Linked DNA regions of Homo sapiens: all the other regions are reported to be linked to region 1. Evidence: microRNA targets listed by miRTarBase, many of them from high-throughput screens and not tested one by one. Region 1 holds a microRNA gene; each other region holds the end of a gene's coding sequence.

Evidence for each region. The annotated mature microRNA hsa-miR-15a-5p reads UAGCAGCACAUAAUGGUUUGUG and lies in region 1 at 1,272-1,293, shown strand. An mRNA with a match to its seed (bases 2 to 7 or 8) in the 3' UTR can be bound and repressed. Matches are read on the target gene's strand: a 7mer-m8 pairs with bases 2 to 8, a 7mer-A1 pairs with bases 2 to 7 and ends in A, and an 8mer does both.
Region 2: miRTarBase lists PI4K2B as a target of hsa-miR-15a-5p. Seed matches in the 3' UTR shown: 7mer-A1 at 2,308-2,314.
Region 3: the mRNA of PAFAH1B2 is a reported target of hsa-miR-15a-5p. Seed matches in the 3' UTR shown: 7mer-m8 at 1,131-1,137.
Region 4: miRTarBase lists TTC1 as a target of hsa-miR-15a-5p. Seed matches in the 3' UTR shown: 7mer-m8 at 483-489.

What each region holds. Positions count from the first base shown.
Region 1 is chr13:50,047,193-50,050,459 of GRCh38, reverse strand. MIR15A (microRNA 15a) reads left to right here and starts at 1,259; the gene lies at 1,259-1,341. DLEU2 (deleted in lymphocytic leukemia 2) reads left to right here. Exons shown (of 14, transcript NR_152566.1): 6 at 798-876. It overlaps MIR16-1 (microRNA 16-1), which reads left to right and starts at 1,399; the gene lies at 1,399-1,487.
Region 2 is chr4:25,276,977-25,279,976 of GRCh38, reverse strand. It overlaps PI4K2B (phosphatidylinositol 4-kinase type 2 beta), which reads right to left. Exons shown (of 10, transcript NM_018323.4): 10 at 773-2,963. The coding sequence ends at 2,790. Among named protein-coding and RNA genes, the nearest start is that of ZCCHC4, 34 kb to the left of the region's middle.
Region 3 is chr11:117,167,217-117,170,216 of GRCh38, forward strand. It overlaps PAFAH1B2 (platelet activating factor acetylhydrolase 1b catalytic subunit 2), which reads left to right. Exons shown (of 6, transcript NM_002572.4): 6 at 205-3,000. The coding sequence ends at 483. Among named protein-coding and RNA genes, the nearest start is that of SIDT2, 10 kb to the right of the region's middle.
Region 4 is chr5:160,064,624-160,067,890 of GRCh38, forward strand. TTC1 (tetratricopeptide repeat domain 1) reads left to right here. Exons shown (of 8, transcript NM_003314.3): 8 at 309-920. The coding sequence ends at 442. It also overlaps a transcript of PWWP2A not described here. Among named protein-coding and RNA genes, the nearest start is that of PWWP2A, 53 kb to the right of the region's middle.

The DNA of each region.
Region 1 (3,267 bases):
AATAAGGAGCAGAGTTATATGTGAAATCCAGGTTGCTTAGATAGGAGATTAGCTACATATATTTTTTATTAATGGGAAAAATACTCAGAAAAATTTCATATGGAATGTGACCCTGTGCTTTGTATAAGTAATTAGATATTAGAATGGAAGAGCAAATTTTAGTGCTTTGGTTGTGTACATCACCTTACTATTCTGTAATAGATGTAACTTTAGCATAGTCATTTTAATGATGAGAACATGGGGCAAAAAAGATTGTCCAGGCTTGAATGGTGGCACCACTAGAGTGGTGGCAATTTTCTGATATCTTTTAGAGAAAAGGAATTTCATTTCTACATCTGAGAAAGTGGAAACTAGGAGTTTCTTCCTTACCTGGTAAATGGGCCAGAAACAGGGAATAGGAAGATTAAGAGCTATGGGATTTGTTTTATTTCTCATCTCAGGGTACCAAATTAACTCATCATCCCAAGGATTCATATTTTAGAATTACTTAAGGATTCATATTTTAGAATTACTGTATCAAATGATATCCAACTCTAAGAGAACTTCTAGTATGAAGATCAATGTTGAAAGTAAAATATTTAGATTATTAATAACAAATTATTTAAGGGAGAATTAGTTTGTTTAGAGCTTTTTTTCTTAACTATATTTGGAATTAAAATGTCTTAATTAGATATTTAATAAAATTAACATTTAGAATTAAAGTATTTTTCTTTAAAAGTATATTTGCATTTTGCTAGCTTAAGTTTATTGAAACTGAGCTCTTGTATGTCATTTCATGTTTTTCCCTTGATGTGAAGTCTTACCTATTTGATGAAGATGTCTTTTGAAAGGTGTACTGCAAGGAACAAAATGTTTGTAAATTCTCCTTTTACCAAGGTAAAGATCAAATTTTATAAATTTACTTGTTTGTTTATACAAGGAAAAATAACTTCATATATTGAATATATTCAAAAGTTTAAGCATTTAGTTGTATTGCCCTGTTAAGTTGGCATAGCAAATAAATGCTTTTCTTTTCCTCATTTTATTCTTTGTGTTTCCTAACCTATAGCACTGTGCTGGGCACAGAATGGACTTCAGTTAAGTTTTTGATGTAGAAATGTTTTATTATTCTACTTAAAATCTCCTTAAAAATAATTATGCATATTACATCAATGTTATAATGTTTAAACATAGATTTTTTTACATGCATTCTTTTTTTCCTGAAAGAAAATATTTTTTATATTCTTTAGGCGCGAATGTGTGTTTAAAAAAAATAAAACCTTGGAGTAAAGTAGCAGCACATAATGGTTTGTGGATTTTGAAAAGGTGCAGGCCATATTGTGCTGCCTCAAAAATACAAGGATCTGATCTTCTGAAGAAAATATATTTCTTTTTATTCATAGCTCTTATGATAGCAATGTCAGCAGTGCCTTAGCAGCACGTAAATATTGGCGTTAAGATTCTAAAATTATCTCCAGTATTAACTGTGCTGCTGAAGTAAGGTTGACCATACTCTACAGTTGTGTTTTAATGTATATTAATGTTACTAATGTGTTTTCAGTTTTATTGATAGTCTTTTCAGTATTATTGATAATCTTGTTATTTTTAGTATGATTCTGTAAAAATGAATTAATACTAATTTTTCAGATGTATCATCTCTTAAAATACTGTAATTGCAATTTAATAATTGTATTGAATGCCATCAAGTTTTTTTAAAAAGCTTATGCAGCATTAGAGGAATTTATTTTAATGCACATTTATATTCAACATAGACATTAATTCAGATTTTTACTTGGGATAAAACAAATTCTAGTTTTCCCTTTGTTTTGAAATTACTTTTAAAATATGTCTTTACAGATAAATATAAAATATATTAAGCATTTTGAACAGAGCTTAGAAGACAATATTTAGTACTGTTTCTGAATATTTCTTTATATCTGAAGGGGAAAAGCCATCAAAATATGTGAATTAAATACCTAAAATTCTGGTTGTCAAAACGTCACACTTAACCATAACTTTAAAGGTAGAAAAACCCTTACAAGTGACCAACCCACTCATTGGATAGCTAAGGAAACACAAAACTCAAATAATTTGCTACACATCACAGATTGGGGTCTTAGTCTTATGTCTTCTAACTTTATAATGGTATACTATTTTTTTCATGTTTTTATTAAAATGTTTTCTTAAATCCTTAGCCAAAGATTTTTGTTTGATAAGTCAAAAATAAGGTCTTGTTTACTTTGTTTACTTTTTTGTATTCAAGATTTAACTCAGAGTAAGACCAAATTATCATTGTAGTTTTATTGATATAAAATGTCAACATAATTTAATTTTTTTTTTTACTTTTTTGTATTTTTAAAATTTTTTATTAAAAATAAAAGTAGACAGCCAGGTGCGGTGGCTCACGCACTTTGGGAAGCCGAGGCAGGCGGATCACCAGGTCAGGAGATCAAGACCATCCTGGCTAACACGGTGAAACCCCATCTCTATTAAAAATACAAAAAAAATAGCCAGGCGTGGTGGCGGGCGCCTGTAGTCCCAGCTACTCGGGAGGCTGAGGCAGGAGAATGGCATGAACCTGGGAGGCGGAGCTTCCAGTGAGCTGAGATCGCACCACTGCACTCCAGCCTGGGTGACAGAGGGAGACTCTGTCTCAACAAAAAAAAAAAAAGAAAAGAAAAGTAGAGCTGGGCACAGTGGCTCAAGCCTGTAATCCCAGCACTTTGGGAGGCCGAGGAGGGTGGATGACGTGAGGTCAGGAGTTCGAGACCAACCTGACCGACATGGTGAAACCCCATCTCTACTAAAAATACAAAAAATTAGCCGGGCGTGGTGGCACATGCCTGTAGTCCCAGCTACTCGGGAGACTAAAGCAGGAGAATTGTTTGAACCGGGGAGGCGGAGGTTGTAATGAGCCCAGATCGCGCCATTGCAATCCAGCCTGGACAACAAGAGTGAAACTCCATCTCAAAAAAATAAATTAAAATGTAAAAATTAAAACTAAATAAATAAATAAAAATAGAGACAGGGTCTCACTATGCTGCCCAGGCTGGTTTCAAACTCCTGGGCTCAAGCAGTCTTGCCTTAGCCTTCCACTGTGCTGGGATTATAGGCATGAGCCACCACCCCTGGCCTAATTTAATTAAAATCTGAACAAAAGGCCGGGCACGGTGGTGGCTTATGCCTGTAATCTCAGGCCAAGGCAGGTGGATCATGTGAGGTCAGGAGTTCGAGACCAGCCTGGGCAATGTGGTGAAACCCTGTCTCTACTAAAAATAAAAAATTAGC
Region 2 (3,000 bases), not on the chromosome of region 1:
TTTTTTGTTTGTTTGTTTGTTTGTTTGTTTGAGACAGAATCTACTCTGTCACCCAGGCTGGAAGGCAGTGGTGTGATCTCGGCTCACTGCAACCTCCACCCTCCCTCCTGGGTTCAATAATTCTTGTGCCTCAGCCTCTTGAGTAGCTGGGATTACAGGTGTGTGTCACCACGCCTGGGCAATTTTTGTATTTTTAGTAGAGATGGGGTTTTGCCATGTTGGCCAGGCTGGTCTCGAACTCCTGACCTCAGGTGATCTGCCCACCTCGGCTGCCCAAAGTATTTCAAATTTTTGAAAAGTTTTGTGAATCAAATTATCTTCAAGTATGCAAAAACCATGTCTCCACAAACAGTCTTCAATTGCTGACAAATTTTGGGGTGATAAGGTGGTGGCATATTTAATTAAGTACAATTAAGATGTCTTTAATTATAAAGGTTTCAGTTAAATATCTTTTGGAATTATAAAGAATTAGGCTAGGCGTGGTGGCTCACGCCTGTAATCCCACCACTTTGGGAGACCGAGGCAGGCAAATCATTTGAGGTCAGGAGTTCAAGACCAGCCTGGCTAACATAGTGAAACTCCATCTCTACTAAAAATACAAAAATTAGCCGGGCATGGTGGCACACGCCTGTAGTCCCAGCTACTCGGGAGGCTGAGGCAGGAGAATCGCTTGAACCTGGGAGATGAAGGTTGTGGTGAGCTGAGATCATGCCACTGCACTCCAGCTTGGGCAACACAGTGAGACTCCGTCTCAAAAAAAAAAAAAAAAAAAAAGAATTAAACTATACCTTTAATATATGAAGAAAATGATAGTTTGGCATCATTTATAGTAAATGTGTTCATAAACATTCTAAATATTCCAAACACGTACATACAGAAGAACATAATCTTAAGACAATGATTTTTATTACCTTTAGTCTACCACATTTGTCACTATAAATATACTTATTGAAAAAAAACCATACTATTTAAATAAGAATTCAGTTCATGAAAGTTTACAAAATACAACCAATGTACTCTGACTTGTGGTTATATCTTAACTATCTCAACTGTACTTTTCTGGTATGGCCAGACCTTTTGCAAATATTACCATGGTATTTTAATTTTATGATATAAAACAGTAGCAATTTATTAAGTTTTCCATTATAAAAATTAATATGGCAATTCTCAAAATACTGAAAAAACTGTTTTATGAAAGCAGTACCCACATCACTGCAACGTATTTCCTTTCTCTTAGAAAACATCTTCAAAAGGCACATTTTAATTACTAGTGTTTATATCTAAAGATAGTAGTTTGAGTTTTGAATTTCCAGTCAATTTTCCATTATCTCAAAATTGAGCTAATGGAGGGTTGGAAGAGGTAGGAGAACGCAGGTTTCCAATGAACTCCCTCAGGGCAGCAGAATCCTCATTCATCTCGTCCATGAAGACCAAAAGGAAGATATAAGGGAAAAAGGAATGGCAGATCTGTTTTGCATCCTAATTTAACCTTCTACACAAAATACTTCATTAAAAGCAAATAAACAAACACAAGATAGTAAGCTTAGAAAACAAAAGGCCTAGACCACAAATTACCCAGTTAAGCCCAAGTGGTGACATTGGTTTTAAGCCTCAAGAAAATGAAACTTCTGCTTCTGTAAAATCACATCTTCATCAATTGAATTTAAATCACTTAGTGCATTAACAATGTTACAAATTCCAATAATGTCAGACATATGGATGATATTCAAAATAAAGTACAAAAATACATTTCAAAATCAAATATAAATGACTTTATGGTTATCTGCCATGCTCCCCTTTAATTTGGCCTGATAGTCTACATTTGACTGTAATTATAATAACATCTGTAATTTCAAGTACAATAGTACAATCATAATAATTTTGAAGAACGTATGACCTAGGACCCCAAAATGCAATCCAATATACAATTTGGAGTATGGTTTACTTTTTAGTGAAGTTTAATACTAATTGAAGTACTAAATTGAACAAGGCCAGTACTCTGAAGTACTAATCTCAAGTATTTGATCCCATGTAAGAAACAGAAGGGAATTTTTAAGGCAATTTTGGTATTCCAAAATATTGGGGATCTACCTTAATTTTCTATTATTCCCCTCAAGTCTCAATTGAATATTTCCATTTTTTAAAAAAAGGGGAAATTTCTTAGGTTTTTTCCTCACTACAACAAAGTAATTCACCAAAAATATTCTCAAGTACAAAAACCAAAATGGTCCTCTATTACTTAGCCAAGATATAATTTTCTGGTCCCTAATAATGGTCACTTTAGGAGTACTTATTCAAATTCTAAAATAGCAGCTTTTGAAATTAAGGCAACATTGCTTTATTCTTACCTGTTTTTCTATTAGCTAACTATTTTATTAAAGTTCGTAAGAGCAATTTCAGACGTAGGCATCCTCAAAGGCCTTTTGTAATGTAAGAAGAATTAGCATGAACATTCTTCTCAATATTAAAAGTTATTGTATTCTACTTGGAATTCTAGAGTAATTACAGTCATTCCAGCATGTGTAAAATTACCTTTTAAACTAACAACAACATAAAATACAAATTTTCTACAAAAATACAATATAGGAGATATAGCACTTCTTCCCTGAAATAGAAATTTAATATTTGGACAAAAAACTGTAAACTTTTGGTTACATTCAAAATACAACCTTTTAAAGACTTAAATTGAGGTTTTAGCAACTGGAGCTCCTAACAGCAGATTTATATTACTATGATGTTTTAAAAACATGATAATTCTAAACAGTTTGTTTCTCTTACTCTGACATTTACTACCAGGAGGAAAAAAATGGCTTCCTGCAATTGACAGTCTGGGTAAAGGAATTGCTCAGGTGGACAATCCGACCCTGACTTCCACCTTGACTGCGTTCCACAATCACACAAGGTATCTGTACTAGCTGGAAAGGACTCTTCCCGTCTCTCAATGCCTGAGTAAGGTTTAAGATCTGTGGGAAGAAGAGAGATTTTTACCAATTTAAAAAG
Region 3 (3,000 bases), not on the chromosome of region 1:
GTTAAGGGACAGGAGGAAGGGAACCCATGAAAAAACTAAGAAGAAATGGTTAGCTTTCATTCAAAACAGTATTTTCCAATGTTTCACAACTCAAAGGTGTAGAAAGTGCCAAATGGAGATGTTCCAGGAATATCTGAAGTTATAAATAATAAGTAGAGAAAAATAAGTGAATCTTCTAATTTAATGTTTTCCACTGTGCCCCAGGGTTTGTTACCTCGAGGTGAGAAACCCAATCCTTTGAGGCAAAAGAACGCCAAGGTGAACCAACTCCTCAAGGTTTCGCTGCCGAAGCTTGCCAACGTGCAGCTCCTGGATACCGACGGGGGTTTTGTGCACTCGGACGGTGCCATCTCCTGCCACGACATGTTTGATTTTCTGCATCTGACAGGAGGGGGCTATGCAAAGATCTGCAAACCCCTGCATGAACTGATCATGCAGTTGTTGGAGGAAACACCTGAGGAGAAACAAACCACCATTGCCTGACTGGCTCTTATCAGTGTTAATAGCATCTCAGCTTCCTCAGATCAGTTCTATCACTGGCACTACAGAATCCTTCTCTTTCTTAAGGCACTTTGCATTGTAGAATGTTCCTGGATGTTCATATCTAGTGTTTGAAGGGGAGGAGGGATTTAAACTGGTCCTGTACATAGAAGGTTTGTTTGACAGAGGAGAAAAATTAGCCAAGGAAGATTGTTGTTTAAATTCATTTGAAACCAGAAGGGGACTTTTTAGTTGTATGTGTAACACATTCATTGAATTATTATCACTGTTTTCTTGGGACAACATCAAGCCTAAATACTGAACAATATGAAGATTCTTTTCTTGGCCTTTCTGTGGATTATGTCATATATAATAATTATCAGAATCATTCTACTTGGCTTTAAAACATGTTTTCTCCAATTTTTTTAAGGTTCATAATTTAGCCTTTTGTTTTTATGTTGCTTAGATTCTTATGTATACTGAATATTTTATTAACATGTAGCATCAGGTTGAACATGCTTGTCATTGATATATGGAAGATGCTATAGTTAGAAGTGAATTTGTTCTGCTTTCTTAATCTTTTCCATGCTTAGCAGTGAAAAACAGGTTTTGCCCCAGTAGAGGGATTCTTTGGAGGGTATTATTTTTTATGCTGCTGAATATCATGTCTATAATAGACCCGTGCATGCAGCCTTTCCTCCTTATTCCCCTTCATGCCCCCCTTTCCCCTTCATTCCCCCCGCCACCCCGTTTTTTTTTTTTTTTTTTTTTTTTTGGTTCTTGTTGACATTACAAGCTTTTAACACATTTTTGACCTAGGAGCCCTGTTGCTGGAAGTATAGTCTCCAGCCAGTTACTCTCATGATAGTACTGCTATAAAACTCATTCTTGTGTGGTGTTCTGTGCTATAGATTCTGTGTATTGCTGTTCATATTCGGAGTTCTGGTTTTGTTTTTCCCTTAAAACCTGTTAACAGTTTTTTTTGGGGGTGGGGGGATTCAGAACTCTTGTTTCCCATTCCATAGCACCTGACATTATTTCAAGTTTTATAATATCTTAAGGTGTATATTTTATTTTTTTTATTGGCTTAGTTGTTTTTTGTTTTGTTTTGTTTGAGATGGAGTTTCACTGTTGCCCAGGCTGGGGTGCAATGGTGTGATCTTGGCTCACTGCAGCCTCCACCTCCCGAGTTCAAATGATTCTCCTGCCTCAGCTTCCTGAGTAGCTGGGATTACAGGTGCATGCCACCATGCCCGGCTAATTTTTATATTTTTATTAGAGACGGGATTTCGCCATGTTAACCAGGCTGGTCTCGAACTCCTGACCTCAGGTGATCTGCCCGCCTTGGCCTCCCAAAGTGCTGGGATTACAGGCATGAGCCACCGTGCCTGGCCTTATTGGCTTAGTTTTTAAATTATCCTCCAAAAATTTTGGGCCTTTTTCTGTGGGGAAACAAGTGAAGCTGCTCTTCAGCATAGACACTACCTTTATCCCATCATTTTAGTAAAAACTAGGTTTGTTTCACTTCTGAGGTGTCTTATTAATGTACTTCATCTGAGAATTTGTTGATCTTAATGTTCGAGCTATATAAGAACTGCCATTAAAAAAAATGGGATAATAGATGATTTTATCAGTATACCTGTGGAATATGTACAAACTGGATCTATAGATATTTTGAACTGGACCAGGTGGGTATTGAAGTAACCCATCAAAATATGCTCTGCAGTGATTCCGCTTAATGTTTAAATTCAGTAACGTACTTGAAAGGCAAATTTCAGTGCTTTTGTATGTTGGAGGAGGGCTTACTGATGCGTGCTAAGACCGATTTCTGATTGAGGGATGAACCTTGGGCTCATTTTTTTCTTGTGAAGTCTCTTTCTAGAAAATTTTTTGGTTTTGTTCTTTTTAAAAAATACATACTTTTTTGAATGTATCATGTCTTCATTAACAACAGAAAATCCACATGGTGTTTACTAAACTTGTTTACGACATTAAAAATTTCCTTTTTATTTTTAGTAGCCCAGGTTGAGTTTTTCACAAGAGATTTTTTTCTTAGCTGAGGTATAGTTGTATAGCAAGAAGAATTAAGCCAGATTTTTGTGTGTGGAAAGACAGTTTTCTATCCACGTCTTTTTCTGTTTGTCAGAAGGTGGGAGTATGGTCCAAATAAATCCATTAGGTTACTCCTGCAGCATGCGCTTTTAGCTTCTCTCTTGACTGAGGATCAAATATCCCTTTGTGAGCTGGCCCTCAGCTCCTTTGCTCATGTGTACAAACCTCAGATGTTACTACATTTTATATCTACCAGAGCTATTCAAGCAATAGTATTTGAACCACTAGCCTTTTAAATAAAATTCTGCCCCATTACTGATGTGCAGATATTGAGTTCACTTTCATTTTTTGCCAGATTTCTTTGCACTACTTTAGGTAAAAATAGTTAATCTATTTTTCTTTGACATCCTAGTTTGCGTCAGTGACAGAACTTACTGCTTAGTCTTTGTACTTTTTAAAAAATCTATA
Region 4 (3,267 bases), not on the chromosome of region 1:
TGTGTCCTCTGATAGCACTGGCCAGTTAGGACAGGAGGCTTTGATTCCCAGAGAGAGCCAGCAGGACTCCACTCTCATCTATGCAAGCACAGGCTGAGGGTGGATGGCATTAAAGTGACTGCACTGCTGAGTGGGGAATAGGGGCTGGGAACTCTCCTGGAAGCTTTCATCATATTAAAAGTAGGCATTTCTTTAACTGCAAAGAGATACTTTTATATTTTGTACTCAGTGGTAAGGCAAGATTAATTGGTACCTTCCTGCTTCTGTTCATTCCTGTATTCATTTGAGTTTTTGCTTTTACATTACAGGTAAATTAAAAGATCTTGGGAACTTGGTTCTCCGACCTTTTGGGCTCTCCACGGAAAATTTCCAGATCAAACAGGATTCCTCTACCGGCTCGTACTCCATCAATTTCGTTCAAAATCCAAATAATAACAGATAACAAAGATAACAAAAGCTTTACAAGCTGACTTGGAATTGTGTGCTGCTTGCTGTTAGCTAGGGGAAAGGCCCTGCCAATGTTTAACTTTTAAAAGCATCTTATCTAAAAGAAAGGCTATCCAGTAGAGCCCAGTGCTCCCTTGTCCCTCTTTTATGATCAGGGTGAAATGTACTTCCTGATGTAATGAACCTAATTTGATTTCCATTTTAAGGTGGTGTCTGTGCAGCTGGTGTCCCCGATTCTGGCTGTCCTATGTCCAGGAAGAAGCCCATTTGTTGAGGCTGACCTTCCTGATCATACACACACACAGCCCAGCAAAAGCCTCTCCTGAACCAAACAAACCTGTTGGTTGGGAGACTGCCCAGACATGATTGATGACGGGTTCCCGCCTGCTGTCCCCTCCCTGATCACACAGCTAACGAGGCTGCCTCCAGCATTTCCTGATTTCCTCTGTGGTAATAAAAGCTTTCTGTGCTTAGGTCTGGGTTAGGTTGTGAATTTTGTCACGTAACGACAACTAAGGCAGAAGCCTTCTCTGGCTTTGGGAGCAGTGTTGGTTTCAAGCAGGGTTACTGATTCCAGATTCCACAGATCTGCCCAAAGTTTTTGTTGCCTTGAAGATTTATCTTGAAGAGTTGACCATTCTACCATGTACTAGAATTCAGAAAGTCCACCTTACAAGCTATCTTGGGCCCCTCCAGGTTTGTATAGATAATTATAAATCTGTGTTTGACCAAATGTTAATATTTTTAACTTAAAATAGCTTCATTGAGGAATGGTAGTATATGAACCCCAGAACAAAACCATATTCTTTTAAACTACATGAACCTAGAGGTGTCAAAGATAGAATTTTTTTGTGCTCATCAGTTGATGCTAGTGAGAAGCTTGCAGTTGCTCTGGTTTGAGTCTCAAAAGCTTGACATGCAAGTTTCATCTTGGATGTAAATTACACATATAATTCTGTAAGTGACATGCAGTAGTCAGTCATACTCCCAGTGTTAAGGACTATGTGGTTCTTCTCATCTGTTCCTAAAAGCTTTTTATCTTTTTTCTTCTTTTGGTCAAAGTGAACCTCAGAAGAAACTGTTAAATCTGGCATCCAATTTTCCTGAAAATGTGTGTGTGAAAAATCACACAAGTTGTATGGAAACCGTGTGGAATGCTGGATGGTCTGGTAGTCAGTGTTCGGTGCTTCCTGTGCAGCCAGCATTATGCTAGAAAGTGGTTCTCATTTTTTTTTTTTTTTTTTTGAGGGGGGTCTCGCTCTGTCACCCAGGCTGGAGTGCAGTGGCGCAATCTTGGCTCACTACAACCTCTGCCTCCCAGGCTCAAGCAATTCTCCTGCCTCAGCCTCCAGAGTAGCTGGGATTACAGGCATGCACCACCACACCTGGCTAATTTTTTGTATTTTTAGTAGAGACAGAGTTTCACCATGTTAGCCAGGCTGGTCTTGAACTCCCGGCCTCAAGATGATCCACCCACCTTGGCTTTGGATTACAGGCGTGAGCCACCGTGCCCAAACTTTTATTTCAGCAGCCCTTCATAGTCTGGAAAAAAAAATTTTAAGAGCATTTCCATTTATGTGCATTCTATCAATATTTAGTATATTAAAAATTAAGATAGAAAGTGTTAAAGTAATCCCTTTGAAAAATAACATGTTTCCTGTTACTATAAATACTTTTATGTCAGGCCAGGAACGATGGATGGTTTATACCTGTAATCACAGTACTTTGGGAGGCCAACGCAGGAGTATTGCTTGAGGCCAGAGATCCAGACCAGCCTGAGCAACATAGCAAGGTTCCATCTCTACAAAAAAAAGTTTAAAAAAAAAAATTAGCTAGGCGTAGCGGCTTCATGCTACTTGGGAGGCTGAGGCAGGAGGATTGATTGCTTGAGCCCAGGGGTTCAAGGCTGCAGTGAGCTATGATCCCACTGCTGCTCTTCATCCTGGGTGACAGCGAGACCTTGTCTCTAAAAAAAAGTTTTACTGAAATTTTTACAATTTTTATGGAAAAATCTTCCAACTCAAAGACACATTTTAGTGAGAAGAATGACATTTTTGCACATCTCTTTAATGCATGGCTTGATAGAGAACAGCAAGAGTCTCACATCTCTTATATTCAGTTTGTCCTGAGATCACAGTGCAGTCACTGACAAGATAACAGTGAAAAAAATAGACTCTTTAATTTTGTATTATGAAAACAGTTTTCATAAGACAAAATTTTGTCTTATGAAAATAGCTTTCATAATACAAAATACAGATAGACACCTTGAAATGGTCTCCAGAACACCTATGGATCCTTGGACTACATTTTGAGAACTACTGTCACATCGTGCCTTGAGCTCAATGGCTGAGACTTAGCAAAATCAGGGCTGAGATTCCAGAAGGACTATCTGTGCCTCCAAGGAATAGGAAATAGACTTGTTCGTCTAGAAACAGCTTTGGTTAAGAGAAGATGCCCGAGACTACCATTGCCACGAGTGTAGAGGTTTTGTTTCTTAGGCTTCCTCCTCCTCTTCCTCTCAATCACACTGAAATCTTATAGGATGCTACACAAGGCCAATATTACATGCTCCCAGTGGGTGGGCCAAGCAGTGCATTGTCTGGAAAGGAAAGGATCCCAGTAGGTGTGAGCTTGCTTAAGCCAAGGAGTTTTTATCTGGCACTGTTACTTTGCTGCTTCCAACATTTGTAAGAAAAGATATATTCAAACCTTTTGAAAATGTTTGACCATAGAAAATCTTCAGACTTCAAAAGTAGAAAGTAAGTGTTAAGGAAGGAAGGTGGCCTGTATTTGCCTATTGCTGCTAGAATGTGTGATTTT